Regions from separate parts of the Homo sapiens genome. Here all the other regions are reported to be linked to region 5. The links are microRNA targets in miRTarBase. Many come from high-throughput screens and were not tested one by one. Region 5 holds a microRNA gene; each other region holds the end of a gene's coding sequence. Distances are from middle to middle.
What was found. Region 5 holds the annotated microRNA hsa-miR-6502-3p (UAGACCAUCUUUCUAGAGUAU, at 2,590-2,610, shown strand). A microRNA usually pairs through its seed, bases 2 to 8, with sites in the 3' UTR of a target mRNA and lowers its output. Matches are read on the target gene's strand: a 7mer-m8 pairs with bases 2 to 8, a 7mer-A1 pairs with bases 2 to 7 and ends in A, and an 8mer does both.

Region 1 (4,055 bases), not on the chromosome of region 5:
TTTTACACACCCTATGGTCTGAGAGCCTCTGCCCCATAAATCCACTCAACTACGTGGGTTTCACATGCCATGTGGCCTTTAACCAATAACCTCCTCATTCTGGCTGCCGTTACCACCTGCCTGATTCCCTAGTTCAAATTCTGAAGAGAGAATGGACGAACAGATGAATACACAAGTCTGACTGGCCTAGCTCAATGCTTTTCACTCCAGGACAATCCATAGGATTGGCTGTACTAGGAGCAGATGCCAGTCCTCCTTTGTACCAGACTCCCAAGACAAAGTACATGGCTGTATAGGAGAGAGAGGTCAGAGAAGACCTGGCGGAAAAGGCTGTGGGGTTGAGACCTAAGGATGGGCATGGGTTTGCCAGGACATGAAGGGTGCAGGGAGAATTCCAGGCACTTAAGAGAGCAGGCCCTTTGGGGGCAGGCAGGAAGCAGCATGGTATTGCTGGACTAAAACCTGTGGCAGGGGCAGGGGCTGCCCAGGGGAGGCAACCAAGTCTCTGAGGGTTTTGTCTGCCAGGCTGAGGGGCTGCCCTTCCTGTGTGGGCTGGAAAGCCAGGGAGAGGTGAAGACTGGCAGTGCTTTGGAGGCCGACTGGAGAGCTCTGAAGCTGGGCAATAGGAGACACTTGTCCCCACTTCCTTGGCTCTGAATTCCCTGAAGCCAAAGTCTGGATTGACTTCAAGGCTTGGCTGGAAAAAGCAGGAAAAGGGAGAAAGGAAGGAGAGAAGGTTCCAGAGGAGGAAAGGAAGCGTTGATGCACAGAAGACACAATTGGGCCAGGAATTTTTATTGTGAGAACGTTCTTTTGAAAAGGATCCTTTTTTCAAAGGCCTCTTGTGTTTGGCAGCCCTTAGAAAGCAAATTCTGAGAATTATTTTAGCCTGATTAAGCTCGCTGGTATCTCAAAATACTGAAATTATAAATACGTAATTACAAACAATGCCAAACTGCAAAATATGCATAAGAAAAGTCCCACAAAGTTGTGATTTTGCTACTTTTTCAATTCCAAATTCTTTCCCTAGGAAGTTTGATGCTGAGCCTGGCCTGTCTGTGGTGGGGAAGGAGGCCTGGGCCACAGCCACTGGACCTGTCTCTGGGATCTGGACCTGATGCCCAGCGAGTAGCCCGCAGGTTGCGTCCCCCACTGGAACACCCCTGGGAACCTGGGTGGGAGCGGCAGGTACAGGGGCCAGTGCAGAGTCAGGGCTTGGCCCATCAGGCCTGGGCCAGCACAGTGAGGCACATTCATTCATACACAGGAGTTGGATTTGCATTCTGAAAAGGTAGCACACATGACAGACCCGTGGGCAACCTGGCAGTGGCTGGGAAACCTGGCAGTGGCCATGCCACAGAGGGAGACCCAGGCTGCAGCTGCTGAAAGGGACTCACGCCCCTCCCAGCTGTGCCAACTGAGGCCCCTCAGGCTGCTGTGTACCAGTTAGTTAAGACACTGGAAGGCCAGGTGTGGTGGCTCACGCCTGTAACCCCCAGCATTTGGGAGGCCAAGGTGGGAGGATCACGAGGTCAAGAGATCGAGACCATCCTGCCAACATGGTGAAACCCCATCTCTACTAAAAATATAAAAATTAGCTGGGTGTGGTGGCACACGCCTGTAGTCCCAGCTACTCGAGAGGCTGAGGCAGGAGAATCACTTGAACCCAGGAGGCAGAGGTTGCAGTGAGCTGAGATCGTGCCACCGCACTCCAGCCTGGTTGACAGAGCAAGACTCTGTCTCAAAAAAAAAAACAAAAAAACTGAAGTAGGAAGATTTCTGTTCTATATCAATCAGGACTTTCTTTGTAAACGAGGTGCGTTCCTTTTGTTCTGTGGAGACCCAGGAGTAATATCACCAGAGTGAGGGTGATGAGGTTAGTAGGGATGCTCGCAGTCTGAGAAATGAACGGACTGCTTTGCATCAGTCCCTTCCCCTTCCCTGATTTTAAAAATTTAATTTTAAGGAGAAAATACTTCAGCATGAGACTTCAGTTCCTGAGGAAAATAACACTATTGCTCCATCCTTAGTATTCACTTAAACAAATGTTTAGCTAAAATTTTATTAAAAACTTTCAGCCCACCCGGACACGGAAGACTTTGCTTTTACAGCAGCTAAGGTATGTTTTCATTACCCCGTGAGTGATGCTAATGCATTGCAAATAGTTATTATGAGTTTATGTAGTGCTTGGTGCCTAAAATAAATTTCATTTAAATATTTAAAATAACTCCTGAATATAAGCAATTTATTCTGATTACTGATAAAATAACATTCACATTCAAGCCTACAAATCTGAGAAATCATTATTCCATATGCACAGAAGGCCACAGTCAGTAGTCTAATAGTACTGCTTACCAGTGTAGTGTAAACTTCTTTCAGAATCAGGGAACAATTCTAGATCAGCCATGGTGAGAAATAAGTGCTCTTCTCTTAGGCCAGCGACACTTCCGATGGGTCTTGACATCCCACCTATGGGCTGGTGTGTGAAACTCTCATCTCTACGTCCCTCCCCAGTTTTAAGAGTCACCATGTCACATAAAAGCTCCAGCATCAGCCAGGCACGGTGGCTCATGCCTATAATCCCAACACTTTGGGTGGCCAAGGCAGGTGGATCACGAGGTCAGGAGTTCAAGACCAGCCTGGCCAACATAGCGAAACCTTGTCTCTACTTAAATATACAAAAATTAGCCAGGCGTGGTGGTGCATGCCTGTAATCCCAGCTACTCGGGAGGCTGAGACAGAGAATTGCTTGAACCTGGGAGGTGGAGGTTGCAGTAAGCCAAGATCGTGCCACTGCACTCTAGCCTGGATGACAGAGAGATTCTGTCTCAAAAGAAAGAAAAAAAAAAGGCTGGGCGTGGTGGCTCACACCTGTAATCCCAGCACTTTGGGAGTCTGAGGCAGGCGGATCACGAGGTCAGAAGATCGAGACCATCCTGGCTAACACGGTGAAACCTCGTCTCTACTAAAAAATACAAAAAATTAGTTGGGCAAGGTGGTGGCGCCTGTAGTCCCAGCTACTCGGGAGGCTGAGGCAGGAGAATGGCGTGAACCCAGGAGGCGGAGCTTGCAGTGAGCCAAGATCGCACCACTGCACCCCAGCCTGGGAAGCGGAGCTTGCGGTGAGCCGAGATGGCGCCACTGCACCCCAGCCTGGGCGACAGAGTGAGACTCCATCTCAAAAAAGAAAAAAAAAAAAAATGCTGCAGCAGCCTACACAAGGCCCTGCTGATCTTCCGGGGTGTTATGTGGCCCATCTATCAGCACCCTGTTAGTATGCTTTTCGATAGGTCTAAGACTCACCCACTTTATTCAAGCCTACTGTGGCAGGTGCCTTTGTCAAACTTGAGCCTAACCATCCCACTGGCCAGGGTCCTGCTCATCACTGTCCTCCTCAGAGTCAGCAGACACCCTCTTGATTCTCTGGAGCGCAGCCTTGATGCTCCTCTCAAGGTCACTGGTGCGTCTGTTGCTGGTTGGTTTGCTGCTGGGGTTTGGGCCAAGATCAGGGTGAACTTTCTTCAGTTTGACCCCTTGCCTTATGGCAGCCAGAATGTGCTCATTGATTGAGGCGTGGGGAGGGCGCACCGCCGGCACTTCCACCTTCCGGAGAGGAGCTCTGCCATGCCTTAAGGAGGCCAACACTTCATCCATAGATCCTGAAATTGAATAAGCAGAGCTAGTACTATCAATAAAACACTTTCCCTTCCCAGGACATTACTGCTATGAAATTGTGAAATCTCCTATCAGTTAACACCATGATTTAAACAAATAATCACTTCATTAAGCAAATGCCTTGATTACGTGCTAACGATAAGCTCCCTGGTTGAATCCAGGACAGCTGAATAGCTCATGTTTTAGCTTAACCACTTCCTTTCTGCTAACTTCTTCAAATCCATAGCAACTGACAGGAACAGACATGCACTTTTGTTAGAATGACGGTTTTTCAAGACAAATGTGATCTGTCCCTCCCATCCTGAAGAGTGTTACGGAGGCCTGGGGTGGAATAGTCTCACCCACTGTGCGTGACCTGGATACCTCTGAAGCTGTATCTC
Region 2 (4,055 bases), 58 Mb from region 5:
GTTGGCTAGCCTGTAGCGAACTCCTGGGCTCAAGCAATCTGCCCGCCTTGGCCTTCCAAAGTGTTGGGATTACAGGCATGAGATATGGCACCTGGCCAGGAATAAAAGTTAGCAATATACTTTGATTCAAAGTACCTCTGTATTATGAATATTTTACAATTTCTATCATTTTTTCCTGCAGGTGAAGACCTGGTTCCAGAACCAGAGAATGAAATCTAAGAGGTGGCAGAAAAACAACTGGCCGAAGAATAGCAATGGTGTGACGCAGGTAACAGGAAACTTCATTCTGTTCTTTCCTTTCAGTGATCTTTCAATCTTGTCCATCCCTGAAACACACAACTCCAGTCACAGACAGTTCTGGTTGTCCTTGTACCCTTTCTGTTAATCCCTCCTTCTCTTTCAGAAGGCCTCAGCACCTACCTACCCCAGCCTTTACTCTTCCTACCACCAGGGATGCCTGGTGAACCCGACTGGGAACCTTCCAATGTGGAGCAACCAGACCTGGAACAATTCAACCTGGAGCAACCAGACCCAGAACATCCAGTCCTGGAGCAACCACTCCTGGAACACTCAGACCTGGTGCACCCAATCCTGGAACAATCAGGCCTGGAACAGTCCCTTCTATAACTGTGGAGAGGAATCTCTGCAGTCCTGCATGCAGTTCCAGCCAAATTCTCCTGCCAGTGACTTGGAGGCTGCCTTGGAAGCTGCTGGGGAAGGCCTTAATGTAATACAGCAGACCACTAGGTATTTTAGTACTCCACAAACCATGGATTTATTCCTAAACTACTCCATGAACATGCAACCTGAAGACGTGTGAAGATGAGTGAAACTGATATTACTCAATTTCAGTCTGGACACTGGCTGAATCCTTCCTCTCCCCTCCTCCCATCCCTCATAGGATTTTTCTTGTTTGGAAACCACGTGTTCTGGTTTCCATGATGCCCATCCAGTCAATCTCATGGAGGGTGGAGTATGGTTGGAGCCTAATCAGCGAGGTTTCTTTTTTTTTTTTTTTCCTATTGGATCTTCCTGGAGAAAATACTTTTTTTTTTTTTTTTTTTGAAACGGAGTCTTGCTCTGTCGCCCAGGCTGGAGTGCAGTGGCGCGGTCTTGGCTCACTGCAAGCTCCGTCTCCCGGGTTCACGCCATTCTCCTGCCTCAGCCTCCCGAGCAGCTGGGACTACAGGCGCCCGCCACCTCGCCCGGCTAATATTTTGTATTTTTAGTAGAGACGGGGTTTCACTGTGTTAGCCAGGATGGTCTCGATCTCCTGACCTTGTGATCCACCCGCCTCGGCCTCCCTAACAGCTGGGATTTACAGGCGTGAGCCACCGCGCCCTGCCTAGAAAAGACATTTTAATAACCTTGGCTGCCGTCTCTGGCTATAGATAAGTAGATCTAATACTAGTTTGGATATCTTTAGGGTTTAGAATCTAACCTCAAGAATAAGAAATACAAGTACAAATTGGTGATGAAGATGTATTCGTATTGTTTGGGATTGGGAGGCTTTGCTTATTTTTTAAAAACTATTGAGGTAAAGGGTTAAGCTGTAACATACTTAATTGATTTCTTACCGTTTTTGGCTCTGTTTTGCTATATCCCCTAATTTGTTGGTTGTGCTAATCTTTGTAGAAAGAGGTCTCGTATTTGCTGCATCGTAATGACATGAGTACTGCTTTAGTTGGTTTAAGTTCAAATGAATGAAACAACTATTTTTCCTTTAGTTGATTTTACCCTGATTTCACCGAGTGTTTCAATGAGTAAATATACAGCTTAAACATAAATCTTTGTTAAATTTTTGGTTGGGGTGGAGAAGGAAATTAGCTGAGGACACTGCTATCTTAGAAATGCATAGAAATAGCTGAGCGTGGTGGCCTATGCCTGTAGTCCCAGCTATTTGGGAGGCTGAGGCAGGAGAATCGCTTGAACCTGGTAGGTGGAGGTTGTAGTGAGCCAATATCACACCACTGCACTCCAGCTTGGGCGACAAGAGCAAAACTCCCATCTCAAAAATAAATAAATAAATAAGTAAATAAATGAATAATAAATAAATATGCCAGTTTTAGAATGAATGAATAATAAATATGCCAGTTTTAGAAAAAAGGGCACTTACGTGCATTGTACATGTGCATCTACAAATGTAATGGGTTATTTCCGTGTATGAATCTGTAATTGATGCTAACATTTAAAGTTTCATCAGAGGCCTATATGTAAGTAAATTCTAAGGCTAGTTGAAACAGATTTATGTTCTCACCTTAAGAGCAGCTACGCAGGCATCTGTGAATTATACTAATAATCCTTTACTGTCCTTTTCCCATCTTGTGCCTGCCCTAAATGTATCTGATCTGAGAGCACGTCCCTTCACTCTGAAGCAGCATGATGCAGGTTATCAGAGTGGTTTTTTCCAGTCTTTTCTCTCATTATTTCCCCAATTGTCCAATGTTACTAAGACTATCCAGTCTAATTCCAAGTGTTTTTTTTTTGTTTTATTTTGTTTTTTTTTAAGACTGGAGTCTTACTCTGTTGCCCAGGCTGGAGTGTAGTGGAGCGATCTCGGCTCACCGCAACCTCCGCCTCCCGAGTTCAAGTGATTCTCCTGCCTCAGCCTCCCAAGTAGCTGGGACTACAGGGGTGAGCCACCATGCCCAGCTAATTGTATTTTTAGTAGAGACAGGGTTTCACTATGTTGGCCAGGCTGGTCTTGAACTCCTGACCTCATGATCCACCAGCCTTGGCCTCCCAAAGTGTTGGGATTACAGGCGTGAGCCACTGCGCCTGGCCTATCGTTTGTTTTTTTAGACAGTCTCTCTCTATTGCCCAGGCTGGAGTGCAGTGGCACAATCTTGGCTCACTGCAACCTCCGCCTCCTGGGTTCGAGCAATTCTCCTGCGTCAGCCTCCTAAGTAGCTGGGATTACAGGCACCCAACATTACACCCGGCTAATTTTTGGTATTTTTAGTAGAGATGGGGTTTCACCATGTTGGCCAGCCTGGTCTCGAACTCCTGACCTCAGGTGATCCACCTGACTCGGCCTCCCAAAGTGGTGGGATTATAGGTGTGAGCCACCGTGTCTGGGCAATTTTTTTTTTTTTTTTTGAGATGGAACTTCACTTTTGTTACTCAGGCTGGAGCACAATGATGCAATCTCTACTCACTGCAACCTGCACCTCCCAGGTTCAAGTGATTCTCTTGCCTCAGCCTTTCGAGTGGCTGGTATTACAGGGATTTGCCACTATGCCCAGCTAATTCTTTGTATTTAGTAGAGATGGGGTTTCACCGTATTGACCAGGCTGGTCTCGAACTCCTGACCTCAGGTAATCCACCCTCCTCGGTCTCCCAAAGTGCTAGGATTACAGGCATGAGCCACAGTGCCCAGCCTTCTTTTTTATTTTTTTAAGACGGGCTTATTCTGCTGCTCAGACTGGGGCTTAGTGGCACCATTTCACCTCACTGTAGCCTCGACTTCCCGGATTCAAGCAATCCTCCTGCCTGAGTCTCTCAAATAGCCCAGACTATAGGTGCACACCACCATGCCAGCTAACTTTTGTGTTTTTAGGAGAGACGGGGTTTCCCCATGTTGGCCTGGCTAGTCTCAAACTCCTGAGCTCAAGCAGTCTACCAGCCTTGGCCTCCCGAAGTGCTGAGATTACAGGCATGAGTCACCAGCCTAGCCCTGTATTATGTTTTCTGAACTTTTTTTTTTTTAATCACCCAGTATTAATCTTCAACCTCTTGGCAGGTAAGAATTTAGAGATCTATTTGGAATAATCTTTAAAGTAACAATAATAACTACAGTCAAAAGCAGTAAGATTAGTGGGCCAGGTGCCGTGGCTCACACCTGTAATCCCAGCACTTCGGGAGACCAAGGCAGGTGGATCACCTGAGGTCAGGAGTTCAAGTTTAGCATGGCCAATATGGCGAAACCCTGTCTCTACTAAAAATACAGAAATTTGCCAGAGGTCTTGGTTTGCGCCTGTAATCTCAGCTACTTGGAAGGCGGAGGCAGGATAATCACTTGAACCCGGGAGGTTGCAGTGACCCCAGATAATGCC
Region 3 (3,000 bases), not on the chromosome of region 5:
TAATGTAAGATGTAACCACTGGAGGAAACTGGCTGAAGGACAGCTTGTCATCCCTACCCTCTCATTAGCATCTCTGCAACCTCCTGTGGACCTATAGTTACATACATTATATATATACACATACATACATATATATACACACATACATATAGATACATACATGCATATACACACATACATATATATACACACACACATATATACACACATATATATATACACATATATATACACACATATATATATACACACACATATATATATACACACACACACATATATATATATATCACACATATATATATATATATATATATATATATATATATTTTTTTTTTTTAGACGAAATCTCACTCTGTTGCCCAGGCTGGAGTGCAGTGGCGCGATCTCGGCTCACTGCAATTTCCGCCTCCTGGGTTCAAGCAATTCTCCTGTCTCAGCCTCCCGAGTAGCTGAGATTACAGGTGCACTCCACCACATCCAGCTAATTTTTTTTTTGAGATGGAGTCTCACTGTCGCCCAGGCTGGAGTGCAGTGGCGCGATGGCTCACTGCAAGCTCCGCCTCCCGGGTTCACGCCATTCTCTCACCTCAGCCTCCTGAGCAGCTGGGACTACAGGTGCCTGCCACCACACCCAGCTAATTTTTTGCATTTTTTAGTAGAGACAGCCTCTGATTTATGTTACGTGATAATATACTACCATTTGCATTTAAAATTATATATATATTTGTATGTGCATACAATATCTCCAGATGAATATGCAAAAACTGATCATACTGGCTGCTCTGGCAGAAAATCTCATGGCTAAAGAGGACTTTTCAACAAACCTTTTGTACCTCTTGAGTTTTGAACCATGTGGATGTTTTCCCGATCCAGAACACCATTCAAATGAGAAAAAATTCTGTTCTAGCCTCTTCCCCAAAATCAATGTCAACTTCACCTATCTAGTTTCCAGAAATCAGGTTCTTTCCCTTTCTGAAAAACCACTATTGCACTTTTCACACTACACCCTTGTCCTTGCAGTGATCCTTAAACCTTCCAGGGCCTTCTCCACCTAGAAGAAATTCCTCTTGAACTCAGAGGAGGAAAAAAAAAAAAAAAAGCTATTAAGACAGTTTAGGAATTAATAGGAAAATTTTAATATCACAATTATCACTGGATTACTGTTATTTTTCTTAGGTTTGATAATGGTATCAGGATTGTGCAGAAAAACATTCTTATCTTAGAAGATAATTCATGTTAAAGAATCTGGGATGGGAAGGGCCACGGTGTCTACAGCTTACTTTCACGTGGTCCCATGAAAAAAGAAATGTGTATAACTACAGATGTATAGATTAGACAGATATATGGGTGTAATATAGATACATGTCTACATGTAGATACGCAGTTTATAGGGATAAGAGTTAACATGACTAAATGTTAATTGGCAAATCTAGGCAAAGGTTATCTATTATACTGTTCTCACTTTTCTGTTTATTTCGAAAACAAGTTGAGGGGTAACTTTTTAAAATCCTACTGAAGTTTCCAAAAATTAGCTCAAATGCCACCTCCTCAAAGGGCTCTTCAGGATACATGTTGGGAGAAATGACTCCCTCTTCTGCATTGCGAAGGCACTTTACTTACGTTCATGATTCAACTGACTGAGCAAAAAAAACCACGGGGCCCCTAGTTCAAGCCCACCAATCTTGGTACCCTCTCACAGACACATCTCTCGGTTCATCCTCACACGTCCATCCCAGCAAGGCCTAGAATAGGATTAGTGCTTAAAGAAAAGACACTGGGACAGTCAGGTGCGGTGTCTCATGCTTGTGATCCCAGCACTTTGGGAGTCCAAGGCAGGTGGACCATGAGCTCAGGAGTTCAAGACCAGCCTGGCCAACATGGTGAAACCCCACCTCTACTAAAAATACAAAAATTAGCCAGGCAGTGGCAGGCGCCTGTAATCCCAGCTACTCAGGAGGCTGAGGCAGAGAATTGCTTGAACCTGGGAGGCAGAGGTTGCAGTGAGCTGAGACCATGCCACTGCACTCCAGCCTGGGCGACAGAGCAGGAGTCCATCTCAAAAAAAAAAAGAAAAGAAAAGACACTGGGTGGGAAATATCCACACCTCAAGAGTGAGCAGGAAGGCCTGGGGTGAGCTTATCAAACTCCTGCCAGGGAGCTGTGAGGGGAACTGTCATTAGGAGGACTAGCCCCAAAACAGAGGTCATTCCCAACGTACCCACTACGGACACCCTTTCATCTTGGGGTAAGGTCCAAATTTCCCAGAATTCAATGACTAAACTGCTCCACACCTTTTCCTAATTTCCTAAACTTCCATAGACTGAGCAATCACTCAGCCTGCCCTTTCAGACCAAGGGGCTGAGCACGCATGCGTGTGGGCATGTGGGTGTTGACACAGGTCCACTCACTAGGATGCATTCTCCACACATTTCCCACCCCGAATACAAACACGAAAGCAGGGCTGTGTCTCTATAACTCCTCATTCTTAACCCTACACACAATTCTGCACGTTTAGCATCCAGCCAGAATCCTACAATTCTGACACCATCGTGCTGAGTGATGGGACAGTCCATTACACCAATGTCAGTTGTTCCTCTCTGGATCGTCAAAAAGAGGACAGCTATGGAGACATCTGGGGAATACTATGGACACCCTGAAAAGCCCAGCAGACACTTGAGCTTCTGGCTGGGGACCCAGGTGTGGCAAAAGGCAGAAGCAGCAGTCGCTATCTAAGGACATAACTTTATTGGAAACAAAGAGTGGGGTGCAGAAGATGGCTAGGAGTCAGGCTCTGTGGGAGGTGGTGGCTTCTCATCATCAGGGGGACAATCGATGAAGTCGGCCAGCATGGCAGCTGTGTCATCCTGCTCCTTTTAGGCACAAAGATACAAGATTCAGAATAGTCACACACACATACACAGAAGAATGGTTCAGGCTGGGCAAACCTCTCCTAAGAGAAGCAGCTGCCACCCCTTCTCCCGCCAGCCCCACCTTCTC
Region 4 (3,914 bases), not on the chromosome of region 5:
ATTAAAATAATAGGGCTTGATAAACTTGTGGAGTTTTGGTCTCCTAGTAGGCACTCTATAAATGTTTGTTGAATGAATGAATGGACAAATGAATCACATTTCCATTGTCCATGTGGTTGTGGTGTTGTGTGAAAGCAGCTTCTCAATGTGGTGCATATTTTCATGATATCATATAAAGGCCTAACTGAGAACTGCTCTGCTTTTCAGAATTCTTTGGTGATCTGGACACGCTGATGGGGCCTCTGACCCAGCACAGCAGCATGACCAATCTTGTCCGCTACGTTCGCCAAGGACTGTGTTGGCTGCGCATCGATGCCCACTTGTTGTAGTGGGTGTTCTCAGATCTCTAGCATCACGACCCATCACTCTACCTCTACCAGCGCACTGATGGTCACTGGTGGAACTCCACTCACTGGGGAACGTTCTCTTTGGTTATGTTTGTTTTTATGCTTCTTTTGTTATCTGTAAAAAACAGAAGTCATTGTAAGTTGACACTACAACTTAAGGGCAGTGTACGTTTTATTACTTAGTCATTTTTTTTCTTTTAGCATTTGATATGCATTTCTCAGATTCCACCATCTTTTTGTGCTTTATGGAATGACAGTCCCTACAATATTGTTTTAAGCCCACACTACCCAAAACAAAGAATGGGAAGCACTTGTGATAAAGACAGGCTCCTGAGAAATGCAACAAGTGGTCTTACATATACATGAGAACTTAGACACAAGGGACCATCCCCCAAACTCTACTCTTATACCCAGAAAAGAACATATTTCAGAATCTGTCAAACTTTTGTGTATCCCACAGATTCAATCTTCAGGTGAGAATTTTCATTGTCAAAACCCACTGGTTAGATGTTGTAGCAACATCATAAAATCAAGAGTATCAAGAAAATAAATGAGCATAGCAATGCTACTCTTAAAAAGATGCTATGCCACACAACCAGAGGACTTTCTTGTTAGCATCCCTTTCCTGATTCCCTATTTTGTTAATTTTAATGATAAGAAGAAAGGGTGACATTTATTTTGACAAGTTTTAGGCATCAGCTGGCATCAGTGTTTTTCAACTCCATTATTTGAAGTGTAAATCCTCACCTGGGGTTCTCTGTGTGCAAAGCTGTCCTTTTGAAGAACAGTTTGGTTGATGCATGCCTTAGTAGCCAAAATGCTACACTCTAGACTTACAAGTGGGAGTTAAGAGAGGTCTGGAAAGTGTCCAACAAGGAATTCACACCTCTGCCTCCTTTGCAACAACAACATTTACACAGTTGGTAAGTGGGTCCATAACTGGCAGGATTTTTAAATTGTATTTTGCTCAAATCTATGGGAACAAAAGTCAAGGTATCACTACCTAGAAGTAATGATATACAGTTTTCTTCCTAGTGGCTTGAAAATCTGGACTTCCTCAATTATTATTCACATTTTCTCTCTTATAGGTTTTCTGTTTTCTACTTTCTTTTTTCTCTTATCTGTGTTTCCCTTTCCTTTGTTTGGCTCATTAACTTTTGACTGAATTACAATTACTCCTTTTATTAAAGTCCATATTATTGTGAATCATTTCCATGAAAATTTCTAAGAAAACTCCAAACTCTCTAAATAGTAGCTAACTTTTATTTTTTTAAAATGAGTCGTGGGGTAGTGCTTCACCTTGAGATGCTTTGAAAGAGCCCTAAACATTGGGAACCATTCACCTAATTTGGAGACATTTCTCACTGGTTGTGACTACCCCCTTATGATCCTTCACATTCATTTTATGTCCCTAAACATCACAATGTAAATATCATTTTTGATGTTCCAGCTCACCAGAAGATTCTTACACTTGGGGTAAACACTATCCATGCATTACTTACTGGTAATTACCTGCTGGTATATAATTCCATGTAGCCTTTAATATGCTGGGTTATCAAATTCTGTTCACTGAGTTATGACCAGATAAATAATAGATATGCACATGAAAGATGCAAACTTGTGTGATTATTAAAGCCAGCCATGCAGGTCCATGATAGAAACAGCAGGTGATGACTCTGCACTCTCATTGTCAAGGTTAGATATATCCCCAGTTGCAAAACAGCCAGACTTGAGCTGTGCTCTGGTCATCTTTGAGTTTAAGGCCTTTTGTTGTATAAGGCTGTGGAAGTTGTACTCCAATGGCTGAAGCCATGTTGTTAATATGGCTGATGGGAGCATCCCTGCAGCTGAACCCAGCACTTTTTATGCTCCCACTGTGGTTGAGCTTTATGTTTACAGTCTCAGCAACAACACTTATGCATCCAAACACTCACAAATGAAACCTGAAAGAATCTTTTCTGAGCCTCTTAAAAGAGGAAAATGATGATAACATTAAAGACTCTGAACACCCAAGGTTGGTGTCACATATAAAAATTAAGCTGATGACTTTGCAGTGACTCAAGTTGTCTCTTTATCATGGTTTACCAGGTAGAGTGCCTGGCTATTACTATATAATGAAGCCCACTGGCTTGACTTGTAAGTTCAACCTAAACCACAATCCTAGACCATCATGGATTTAGGAGTAGATTCTTCTTGAAATCCCACATCCAGAAACTAGACATTAGAATGTTGAGGCAGTTTCCCAGAGAAACAAGCATATTGCCTCATGGATGAAAGACTTGTAGTTCTAGTTTCAGTGACTTGTTATATCTACTTACATACAACAGGGAGGCAAGAGGATTCTCTGTCATCTCTGGTGACTGAGTGTAAAATATGTGCCAAGTCTGCAGCACAGTGACCAAATCTGACAATCGAGCTCTGGATCACCACTTGATTATGTAGTAGACTCATTTATAAAGCAGCTTAGGAACTAATTAAACATGGAGGATGAATTACCTTCCTATCCCTTGAGATAAGACATCTTTCAGTTTCATGATTAAGGATTGTTGCTGTTTTATAGTTACTCTGTTCATCACAGTGTAAATGGTGATGCGTGTCGTAGGTGTGCAGCTATTTGAGGGACTAAGGGATGGAGATATTCTGTCAAATGAATCTCTTCAGTATACCAGTTTGTGGGAGGGATATGAGACATGTGGATGGCAGTGAGAGATCGTGCCTCTAGATCTTGATGGAGGCTTGGTGAGACACACTTAAATAAGCACGTGGAGGTTAGAATAGAGGGCAGAGTAAAAGGAAGCTCCATCTGAGCAAGTACACCAAATGATCTCAGCCCTGCAACTTGACCCAGGTAGGGCCACCACTACGCCTTCACTTGTCACCCAAGCTCCAACCACAGAGAGTTTGACAAGTTTGTGTTATGATGTTGGCTTGGCTTTGTATTTTTAATTAACTTTGGATTTTTAGTGGTTTTGTCATATAACTGTCTGAGTTTGGTAGGTAGGATTACTTTGAAAAGGGTTTACTAGTGTGGTCCTCCGGGTAGAATTTAGCTGTAAGCATGTTGTTAGCCAGCCTGTAGACTGTTAATTACTTAATAATCTCATTGGGAAAATACTAGTAGTTTTATATTTGGATGACATAATTGGAAAAGCAGATTAGCTGCTACTACTTTTAAAAGACTTAAGGTCGGGATGCCTTTTTTTCCATGTAAGGAAATGAAAAGACCAAAATCTTCAGGCAAAAAGCAAGTTGCAAAATTAGAAACCATTGGCTAAAAATGTGTTTTGTTGAGTTTCCAAATGGATGAATTTTCATTTGGACATTACATCACTAAATTCATTAGATTTTGTCTGCATTGGAAAGATACTCTTCTAGCATATCTTTCCCAAAGATATCTAATTTGGATTCTGTTTCATGCAAATTTGCATCCCGGAGGTTGAAGTTGGAGTTTGAGGTTGGAAAATATCTTTGAAGGCAGAATCAGTTGAGTTGTGAGGGTGAAGCCTCACATACTTCTCAACAGACATGATAAAATTCACCTGCATGAGTTGGCAGGTGGGAGAACCA
Region 5 (4,055 bases):
TCTGCCAAGAACATTCAGTTGGATTCCATCGTTTGGTTTAGCTTGCTTGCACGGGTTGTAGGAAATGTCTAATTTGTAAATGTTAATAGATACCTTTGGAAAGAATCACCTTGTTATTCTGATTGACCCCTCTTGTTTTTTGGTTAATCCCTGACTAGCCTGCTTGTCTGAAAATGAGCCAGGTTCACCCTTAGCTACGGCATGCTCTGGGTTGAAAGGGGATTTCTTCCCAAGATCTATCCTAAACTCTTAGGACAGTTTATCCTGTATTGACTATTATTACAGCTTTTTAAAAACAGACTTAGTGACCTATTATATCTTAAGGAGACTATGTGAAATGTCCATCAAGTAATTTTTATTCCTGAGAAAATGGCTGGTCAAGGGCCTAGGTCAGCTTTTTGTTTAATCTACACCTTTCAACTCTGGGCCTTCATTCCTGCTGTTTCTTGGATCTCCCTCTTTTGAAATCCTACCAATCATCAGAGCTCTACAAAACAGCCACCTCCTGGAAGCTTCCCTAATCTCTACAACCAGAAGTACTCCCTTTATCAGTATTTCCACAGCAATTTCTTTGTATTTCTATTTTATATTTATCACTTTCTGAATTATATCAAAGCTGCTTGTCTTATCTCTTTTTTTTTTTGAGACGGAGTCTCGCTCTGTCATCCAGGCTGGAGTGCAGTGGCACAATCTCGGCTCACCGCAAGGTCTGCCTCCCGGGTTCACGCCATTCTCCTGCCTCAGCCTCCCGAGTAAAGGTGGGACTACAGGCGCCCGCCACTACGCCCGGCTAATTTTTTGTATTTTTAGTAGAGACGGGGTTTCACCATGTTAGGCAGGATGGTCTCGATCTCCTGACCTCATGATCCGCCTGCCTGGCCTCCCAAAGTGCTGGGATTACAGGCGTGAGCCACCGCGCCCAGCCTTCATCTCTTTTACTAGGTTGTAAACTCCCTATATTAGTTTTCTATTGTTTTTGTAACACATTATCACAAATTTAGTGACTTAAAGTAACATAAATTAATTATTTTGCAGTTCTGGAGGTCAGAATTCCTTAGCATTCTTTCTGGAGGCTGTTGGGGAGAACTCACTGCCTTGCCTTTTCCAGCTTCTAGAGGCCACCTGCCTTCTTTGGCTCATGGCCTCTTCCTCCGTCTTCAAAGCCAGCAACGTGACATTTCAGATCTCCCTCTCTCTGTCTGTCTCACCGCATCTCTTCACTACCCTCTTCCTCTCATTCTGGCCCTTCTGCATGTCTTTTATAAAGACCTTTGTGATTTCACTGGGCCCACTCATATAAGCCAGGAAAATCTCTGTGTCTCAGATCCTTAATTTAATTACACCTGCAAAGTCCGTTTTCTCGTGTAAAGTAACATATTCACAGGTTTCTGGAATTGGGACGTGGACATCTTCGGGGGACCATTACTCTGTCTGTCATACTCCCTGAGTGTGTAAGGGCCATCTCTTCAGAGCCTAATGTGTCATCCTACACAGAGCAGGTGTTTCCTTATAAATTAAGTTGAATTAAATTACCCCTATGAAGCCACATAATCAATAATTCAGCTATAATAAACATTGCCGAATAAATTAACAAAGGGAGGATAATGACTCCTTATGATGATGGATAGAAACACTGAAGAAAACCATTTTCAGAGGATTTACTGAATTTTCCTCTCCAAGGAGCTTGTAATAGAAGGGTAAACCTCTAGTTTCTTGTCCAGCAGAGGAATAGGCTCATGTCTTTTGTTTTATTTTATTTTTTTGGTGAGTCAGTATGGTTGGGTTAATCATATTCACATTAGATTCCATGTTGAAGAACAACTAATCAAAGAAGAAAATCATCAGGAATCAGGGTGAGATTAACAGACCAAGGTCAGAAACATGGAGTTACAATTTTCCAAAAAAGCACGAAGTGAGATTAAAACCACAGTAAGTCTTAGTCTGACTGACAGGCTTTATACAGGCCCTCGGTAAGCAGTTGGGAGAACCCATGCCCACCACTGCTCTGTACGGTATCTGGCTGCTCAGAGCTCTCTGATTCACAAAAGAGATCATCAAGAATTGACTCTGTGTTAAACTGTTTTTCACTTAGAATATGGACCCCCACCAATACATTCAATGAAGGGTCATTAAGGAAGCTCTGATTAACACCAGGCCCATGCAGTTACTCCGCACATATAATCTGTGGGTATTATGTTGATTTGAACTTGCTTAGCTGACTTAAAGCAGGGTTTCTCAAACTGTAGTATGCATCAGAATGACTTGGAAAGCTGGTTAAAAACGCAGATTGCTGGGTCCACCCAGCTTCTGATGCAATAGGTCTGGGGTTAGAAATTTTGCTTTCTAATGAGTTCCCAGGTGATGCTGATGCCAATGATGTGAAGCCCGCTCTTCACATCCGTGAAAATCGCTGCCTTAAGGTGCTCTTAAATTGTTATAGATTGGTAGATCCTACCTTTCCATCACTGGTATGTTTTTTGAGAAAAGGATCCTTTCTTTTCATTCTGTTATATTCATCCTATTACATAGGATGTTGGTTAGCACAGAGTGGGAGCTCTAGAAAGATTGTTGACCAATCATCTTATTGACTAGACCATCTTTCTAGAGTATAACTATTTTGGACACCTCAAAGATGAAGTCAGATAAGCTGGCAGTGACCTGATTAACGTTGTGGTAAGCAGATGCCACTGTGGCTGGGAAGTACCAAATCTTCTGTTGAGTGATTCAGTCTTCCTGACTAGATTTGCCTTCTAGTGGGTGTATTAATAAGCGTTAGTTGATATGAATTAAATGTTGCAACTTTCTATGGGTAATAAGAGGATACCTTTATAGTTTCATGATGTGGAGACCAAGATACATAAGAAAGCAAGAATGAGTCTCCGGGTGTTCCCTCTGATCAGCAAACATGAATTCATAATTTCATTTACTCTCATTTTTGTAATGCACTCTGAGCAATCCTCCAGGCAGATCCTATTTACTAAGCTTCAGGCTTTTGTCCCATTTTATAATGCCCAAACACATGGAGAAAACATTTTGTTGTTTTTAAAAACAGGTATGGGATTTCTGATATAATCAATTTTATTGACTTCTTGGGAGTTGTAATGATCTGTGACTCACTGCATAATATTGTAGTTTTATAGGGTGGCACATCACCCTGTGTAAAACAACTTTAATGACCTGAGGACTGATGAGTACAGGAAGTGAGGTTTATCATGAGTAGCATTTATTAAGCATCTGCTAGAATCAAAGCACTGCATTAGCTACTAAGGTACAAAGTAAGACACAGTTTAATAAGGAAGACAGGGCATCTACCCAAGTCAACAGTTCAGTGACATCTGTTATTTGAACCACACACCAATGCAACCGAAGTAAATGCTGAAAGGGTGAGAAGAAGGAATAGATTACTATGCATTTTTGAGAGGATGAAGAAGGCTTCTTGGAGAAGGTTTCTGAAAAGAGATACGGAATTAAGAGAAATAGAAAAGAGCACTGACGAAGCACTCAGGATGGCTATTCAAGGAATTGGGGATCCACAGCAGCTGTGCACAACCATCCCTAATGCCAGAAAAATGGGGTAAGGGTGAAGGGAACTGGGTCTAGAGCTTTGCATGTTTTTTTCTGGTTAACCCTTAGAGTCACCCTGAAGGTGTGGATCCCATCTTATAATAAGGTGAGGACACTGAGTCAGGAAACTAACTTGCTAAAATCAAGTCCTCCCAGTCCTCCCATCAGGTCCTTCCAGATCTGGAGGAGCCAGGATTTGAACTCACATTTGTCTGACTTCAAAATCCATGCTTTTTCTTGTGTTCCAAATTGCACAATGGAGTCACTGCCAGTTCAAGCTCCTATGAAAAGGGATGGATGTGAAAAGTCATTTGTTGATTCCACAGATTTTTAGTAGGTACCATGTCTCCTGCCTTTATCACTATCCTACTCCTCTGCTACAACTTCTCTGCTACAGGCACCCACTGCAGTTACTTGATATGAGTTAAATGAATCCATCCATCCAAACTTCCATTCATTGAATAAATACTTAGCAATGGCTTCCTTTGTAT

Region 1: miRTarBase lists WHAMM as a target of hsa-miR-6502-3p. Seed matches in the 3' UTR shown: 7mer-m8 at 2,929-2,935 and 7mer-m8 at 1,544-1,550.
Region 2: the mRNA of NANOG is a reported target of hsa-miR-6502-3p. Seed matches in the 3' UTR shown: 7mer-m8 at 1,260-1,266.
Region 3: the mRNA of PELP1 is a reported target of hsa-miR-6502-3p. Seed matches in the 3' UTR shown: 7mer-m8 at 2,012-2,018.
Region 4: miRTarBase lists AFF2 as a target of hsa-miR-6502-3p. The part of its 3' UTR that is shown has no 7-base or 8-base seed match.

Annotation. Positions count from the first base shown.
Region 1 is chr15:82,832,833-82,836,887 of GRCh38, reverse strand. WHAMM (WASP homolog associated with actin, golgi membranes and microtubules) reads right to left here. Exons shown (of 10, transcript NM_001080435.3): 10 at 780-3,659. The coding sequence ends at 3,352. It also overlaps a transcript of HOMER2 not described here. Among named protein-coding and RNA genes, the nearest start is that of WHAMM, 25 kb to the right of the region's middle. RefSeq lists an enhancer at 3,403-4,055.
Region 2 is chr12:7,794,276-7,798,330 of GRCh38, forward strand. It overlaps NANOG (Nanog homeobox), which reads left to right. Exons shown (of 4, transcript NM_024865.4): 3 at 182-268; 4 at 404-4,055. The coding sequence ends at 820. Among named protein-coding and RNA genes, the nearest start is that of NANOG, 6.9 kb to the left of the region's middle.
Region 3 is chr17:4,668,659-4,671,658 of GRCh38, forward strand. It overlaps PELP1 (proline, glutamate and leucine rich protein 1), which reads right to left. Exons shown (of 17, transcript NM_014389.3): 17 at 1,116-2,873. The coding sequence ends at 2,781. Among named protein-coding and RNA genes, the nearest start is that of ALOX15, 28 kb to the left of the region's middle. RefSeq lists an enhancer at 1,369-1,538.
Region 4 is chrX:148,991,004-148,994,917 of GRCh38, forward strand. It overlaps AFF2 (ALF transcription elongation factor 2), which reads left to right. Exons shown (of 21, transcript NM_002025.4): 21 at 208-3,914. The coding sequence ends at 329. Among named protein-coding and RNA genes, the nearest start is that of AFF2, 490 kb to the left of the region's middle.
Region 5 is chr12:66,248,539-66,252,593 of GRCh38, forward strand. MIR6502 (microRNA 6502) reads left to right here and starts at 2,544; the gene lies at 2,544-2,619. It overlaps IRAK3 (interleukin 1 receptor associated kinase 3), which reads left to right. Exons shown (of 12, transcript NM_007199.3): 12 at 1-4,055.